Linked DNA regions of Homo sapiens. The protein of the gene in region 2 interacts with the protein of the main gene of each other region in a biochemical or structural test. Each region holds a gene or a part of one and is shown on either strand. Other genes may lie near its edges. The genes, in order: ITGB1 and ITGA9.

Evidence for each region.
Region 1: the proteins of ITGA9 (region 2) and ITGB1 form a complex in vitro, tested with the Homo sapiens proteins (one study listed by BioGRID).

Annotation. Positions count from the first base shown.
Region 1 is NC_000010.11:32,902,925-32,906,466, reverse strand, and holds part of ITGB1 (integrin beta-1 isoform 1A precursor), read left to right. Parts: intron 1-3,542.
Region 2 is NC_000003.12:37,819,117-37,821,885, reverse strand, and holds part of ITGA9 (integrin alpha-9 precursor), read right to left. Parts: 3' UTR 1-2,769. UniProt on the Homo sapiens protein: Integrin alpha-9/beta-1 (ITGA9:ITGB1) is a receptor for VCAM1, cytotactin and osteopontin. It recognizes the sequence A-E-I-D-G-I-E-L in cytotactin. ITGA9:ITGB1 may play a crucial role in SVEP1/polydom-mediated myoblast cell adhesion.

The DNA.
Region 1 (3,542 bases), on a different chromosome or scaffold from region 2:
AGGTGCCTGCCACCATGCTAGGCTAATTTTTTTGTTTTTAGTAGAGATGGGGTTTCACCACATTGGCTGGGCTGGCCTTGAACTCCTGACCTCCAGTGCTCTGCCCACCTCGGTCTCCCAAAGTGCTGGGATTACAGGCGTGAGCCACTGTGCCCCACCAGTATTATCCTTAAATAACAAATTTGTTATGAGTAAATTTTAGGGTTGGATAGTGAAAATTGATCACGAAATCCAAATTGCAAAATAGAAAAATATAACCTACTATGATATTTGTATGGTATGCAACTACAATATCATTATTGGTTCTCAAAAGATTTGAGATCAATTTCTTGAATATAACTTGAAATTTCATTAAAAGCCAGAAGACCATATATATGTATGTATATTATATATATATGTGTGTGTGTCTGTGTGTGTATGTGAGAATGATTCTAATTTTCAAATGTAAGTTTGTAACTGTTCATATCTGAATTTTCATGAAATGCTTCCAGCATATTCTAATAAAATCATGCAAGCCCCTAAAACTCTGATAACAAAGGTTAATTGTGATTAGAACTAAATTCTCCTGACTGGTGGTTGAGAACTCTTCTTCTCTTTCCCAACTGACTGACTGTAATAGGGCCTGGAAGATTTCTGCTTTTCTCACTGCCTACCTTATTGTGCAGATAAAGATGGTATTGGGAACACTTACATAAAAATCACTGTGTCTCAGGCATGATTCTGACCACTTAATCTGTGTTTAATCTTCATAGTGAAAGTTGTAGGAATGTTTTACATATGAGAAAACTGAGACACATAAGGGTTATGTAACTTGACCGAGTTCCCACGGCTGGTTAGTCAGAGAGCTGAGATTTGAACCCAGGCAGTTGGGCTCCAGAGTCCATGTTCTTGTCTATGACATTGTACTTGGTAGCAGTTATGTATCTTCAGAAGTCCCGTTACCTGGTTAGGAAGAGGTAGATCACTCTTTATAGAGATTTACAGCCCTTTTACAATTTGTTGTTACTCTGTCAGAGTTAACACTGCTGCTGTTGGCAAACATCATGTTAGGGAAATCACTTTAATACATGGAACCCAGTGCTGTTGTTGTGTTTTTTGACTATTGAGAGTGTGCTTACAAACTGATCATGAATAAGAGCCTACAGTACAGGAATGTTTAATAGTTACAAGTGATATAGGAAGTGCTGATAACATTAGAAATCATTAACTTGTCAGATTTTTATTTCTAAGTAGACCGTAAGATTTTTAAAGTTAAATTTGATGGCAGAAAATTATATTCAAATTCACATATGGGCAGGTTGGTACATATTTGTATTAGTCTGAGACAATATATTTTTCTCGTTCTCACTTAGTACTTTACAGAAAGTCATTTTTAGAGGAAAACTGATTAGCCAATGACATTGCCAGGCTTTTTTTTTTTTTTAATACATATTTTTTTCTTTAGTTGTAGGTCAAAAATAGTCAAATGTTGACAATTTCATGTGGTTATTTCTCACAAGAGAAAAAATTTCTGTCCTACTGAGGTGAAATTTTCACCCTTGCTGTACCTTTCATTGTATTTTGAAGGAAATTATCAGTAAATGTTATTTAAACTTAATGTTTATAATGTATATATGGCTAAAATGTTGCTAAAATAAGCATTTTATGTAATTCAGGAAGCAGAAGTTTGGTAAAAATTTCTCTATGCATTATTGAAGTCCAGGCAATTTGATGGCTACAGATTATTTTAAGAGATGTTTTTCTCAAGAAAAAGTAGAAATTAACAATTGAAATAAATGAATGAGCATCAAGAAATTACATCATGGATTGTAAGAAACTTTTCTGATATGGACCAAGGTTTGCCAGTCAATTATGTCATTGAAATTTTTGAAATAATGGGCAGGCGCTAATTACTTTGGCAGAAGACTACCATGTAGGAACATTAAGAAGAACATGTCACATTATCAGCTTCTAACTGTTGGAGTGGGTTAAAAAAATGGTCTGTCCTCATCTGCTGCTATGCGGGTTTAAATGTGGCTCCCAAATCTCCCACACTTCTGCATTATGTATTTAATACATTGTAGAGATGGTTCTGCAGCTACCACTGTCAGCCATTCCAGAGTGAGCACAAAGATGACATTTTACTGAGCTTGAGGGCTTCCTTTCATAATATAACCCTGTTCTCTTGCTGCGGGTTTTTTTGGGGTGGGGTGGTGTTGCACTCTGAATGATGGAAACTAATTTGAATTATTTTAGTTTACCTTCATTTAAAATGATGCCTAATACAGATAGTGAGCTTAATTTTACCTCTAACCTTGCATGTTAAACTTTTGTTTGAGTGGACTTTGAAATAATAAATACAAATGTTTGTGTATACGACAAGACAGATTTTTCTCCAAAGGTAAGTTCTTCCATATAAATTACACTTTGGACTCATCTATATAGGGCTTTTTTTCTTTATTTTTTGTTTTCTTTTTTTTTTTTGTCCTTCCCTTATAATTCTTGAGTATTAAATACTAGATTTAGCAAATATATTGTATTAAAGAAATTTAATTAGATGCTAATTTATTTTCCCAACATATTTGAAGGAATGTGTAGCACTTAGCCTCAAATCAGATAGGATATAAATGTGGAGTGTAATTTATTTGCACTCTGGCTTTTTAAGATAGTAGTTGCCAAAATCCAGTTTCCTGACCCCCATTTTGAAATGTCTGCTCTCACAGCTGTATAATGTATTAGCTTCAGTTGGGACTAGAGCTGAGAGTTTGATGTACACAGTTTTGTCATCCACATTATATGCTGTTTGTCTCTGAGGGATCCTGAGTTTGTCCATGTTTCTGAAACAACCAGTCAAGGTGTATTTTGAGGAGAGGGGAGTGAGGGCTGAGGTATGTTGTCTGGTTCTGATTGGTATCACATGAGCTGCTGAGCTGAAATCACAGTGGTTTATTTGGTGTCTTGCAGGACCCAGCCTTTATATGTTAATGTTTTTCCCTCATTGGTATGGGATACCTACAGGATGAAGTTTCAGACTTCATAGCAAGGCCTCTAGGACTGTTCTTCCTTTGTCTCCTCACCTCCAATCATATGCCCCCTTAATTCTTTTTTTTCCTCTTTTTTTTTTTTTTTTTTTTTTGAGATGGAGTCTTGCTCTTTCGCCCAGTCTGGAGTGCAGTGGTGCGATCTCAGCTCACTACAATCTCCGCTTCCCGGGTTCAAGTGATTCCCCTATCCCAGCTTCATGAGTAGCTGGGATTACAGGCACCCGCCACCACACCCAGCTAATTTTTGTATTTTTAGTAGAGACGGGGTTTTACCGTGTTGGCCAGGCTGATCTCAAACTCCTCACCAAAAGTGATCCACCCACCTCGGCCTCTCAAAGTTCTGGGATTACAGGCATGAGCCACCGCGCCTGCCCTCCCCTAACTCTAGAAACTTCTGAACTGTATGTATTTCTACTTAAATGTCCCATTCTTTTCCCTACACCTTGACTTTGCATAGATTGCTATTTACCAACCAATAATTTTTCTAGTCAATTTCACAATGAAAATCTCCTTAATCTT
Region 2 (2,769 bases):
GCATCATCCTTCCCCAGACAGGTTCCTGGGGAGGCTTTCAGTATCTGCTGGTGGTGATGCCAAGGCTGGTTTTCTTAAAACCTGCCTTTATAAAGTCTTAGTGACCTCCTGGGTATACAGCTGCTCATGTGGGTCCACCCACGCAGAATCAAGCAGAAGCAAATAGGTCCCAGCTCTGAGACTGCCCACAGGAGTCTACCCTTCTCCAGTGGGGCTTTGCTGGTGGGCAGAACATGGGCCTGCGAATCACCCTTCTACACTGTCACCAACGCACCTACACCCCGGCAGGAGGCAAGTTAGTTGCTCTAAGTGCATGTGGCCAAAGCTGTTGATGGTGCTGTTCCAGAAATATCACCTAAGAATCCTAAATGATTCATTAAAGAAAACATGGCATTATGAACAAGAGTCCATCAAAGGAAAGCTGCAAATGGCATCCCATTCAAAAAGTCCACATGCCACTGCATTTTGCCACCCTGAGGCAAAATGTCCCTGAAGTGTTCTCTGGGGAACCTCCAGCACCTTGCACAGTGCCTGACACACAGCAGGGGCCTCATAAATGGCTGTTAATAAGTGATAAAACCCACCCAAGACTGCTTTTCTTGCTGCTTTTGATAAAACTCATAAGCGAACTCTGAGTGACAGCTGCTTTCTTTGCCTCGTCCTGCTCCCTGTAGCTACCTCTGTGCCTCCATCCCACAGTTAGATGCAACATCCCTGATTTCCAGGATCAGCTTAGTTCATGCCATTGACCCTTGATTTTTTTGGTCTATTCCCATGTTCACCAGGAAGAGAAGCATGAGGTTACATCTGTAATCTCCCTGCAGCAGAGTCAACTGCATAAGAAACCAAAAGACACACCTGCTCCATGCCAGGTTAGTACCCACCCATCACCCTCATAATTTTGCCAAAACTTTAGATATGTTTGTGAGTATTAGCCAAGTATGTGTATTAAAAATCTGTCTTCCCAGAAGTTGAGTTTGATGTCTTTTTGACAATGTTCACGGACTCCCAACGTGTTAGCTTCCAGTAAAAAAGGTGCTATAAGAAAGACCCTTGGTTTTATAGATTGTTTCATCCGCACTGGATGCCATGTGTATGTAGCTGGCACTTTGGCAGGCTGTAATAAGCCATTAAGACTCCGTTAGACCCTGCTCTTAGCCCCATGTTTTCTGTCTTATTAGATGGTTATCCATCAGTAGGAATAGCAGCCATAGCTGTTAACAGTTATTGAGTGATCACTATGGGCCAGGTCAGTGCTGAGCATGCTACATCCATCATCTCATTGCCCTTTCAGAAAATCACACTGCACTCAAAACTAAGCAGCACAGTGCATCTGACAATATATCTACTGTCAAACAGAGAGCTTGGATACTGAAGGCCGTAACTCAGCACTCACACATTCAGGGGGTGGGGAGGGGCAGTGTTCTGCTCAGATCCTTTGCATCATTTCTTTTGCATCATTTCCCTGTGTCTCCCCTGGCTGAGGATGCATCTGTGGTTGTCCTTTAGAGGACTGTCCTGAGCTACTGGAGCCATTACGCCAGCAGGAATTGAGAATAAAACGTTTACATCTCCTCTGGGTGCAGCCAGCCCCTTGATTCAGGTTGGGACACCTCTGAGGCCTAACTTTTCCTCCGGAGTTCCCCTGATCAGGCTGAGGCTAAACTTCATGGAGCTCTCCCTGAAATGACAAACATTTGCCTGGCTTTGTCTCCTTCCTTGTCCTGCTTCCCCCACTCTCTTACTGGTATCCCCTGGGAATACTTCCTTAATAAGTTACTTGCACACAAATCCTTGTTTCAGGGACTGCTTCTTGGGAACCCAATCTAAGACATTTTTTTTAAAACGGTTAAATGTCCTCTCTGGGAAGGAATCTGCAATCACCACTAGCTGGGACAGCCAGGGTGGTAGGGGAAATGAAGATCTCTCAATGAAAATTACCACAAAAAGGCAATCCCTCACAGCATTCAGACCCAATTCTTTGCTTAGGGGACAAGGATTTAGTCCTTGTGGTGTGTGAACTCTGATGCAGGATGTCCAGGATGAGACGCCATTCTGAGGTTTACCAGATGACCACATGGCATTGCTCCAAGCTTTCATCCATCATCTGTGTAGAAGCAGGGTGACATGTCTGCTATATAAAGGTGATACAGAGCAGACTTCTTGCTAGGGATCAGGTTTTCCATCCAAATTCTTGTTGGGAATCTTCCAATGAAAAGTACATATGAAAAAACACTTACAGTTCTTTAGCACACATTAGCATGTGACTCCACACTTGATCGAGGCGATAAAGATGTGAAATGTCTTCGGGGTCTTGCCACACCCACAGTTTATATGCACCACTGCCAGCCTGGTGGATTCATTACATGAGGTTTCTTCAACTTATTTCATCTGTCTTTTTAAACAGCAAGTTCCAAAGTACGGTAAGATTTTCATCCTTTAAAATTTGTATTCATGGACATGTACTTCCAAGATTTTAGGCCAGATATCAGTGCTTGAGTGAATTATATAACTATTTAATAGAAATAATAAAACATCGATACAAATATAAAAGACATAATCAGTATAAAAGGCTTATATTTATAAAAATACTTTAGGTAACAGTTTTCCCCTGAGGGTTGACCATGCGTGTTGCATCCATAAATATTGCTCGGCTCTGTAGCTCACTCTCCAAAGTTCAGAGTTCATCTTTAAAGGAAGTGGTGCTGGCCCCGGTCGTGTGACCTGGCCGAAGTGGCTGCCTCAGGCTGGCACCTGGGCTTGATAGAA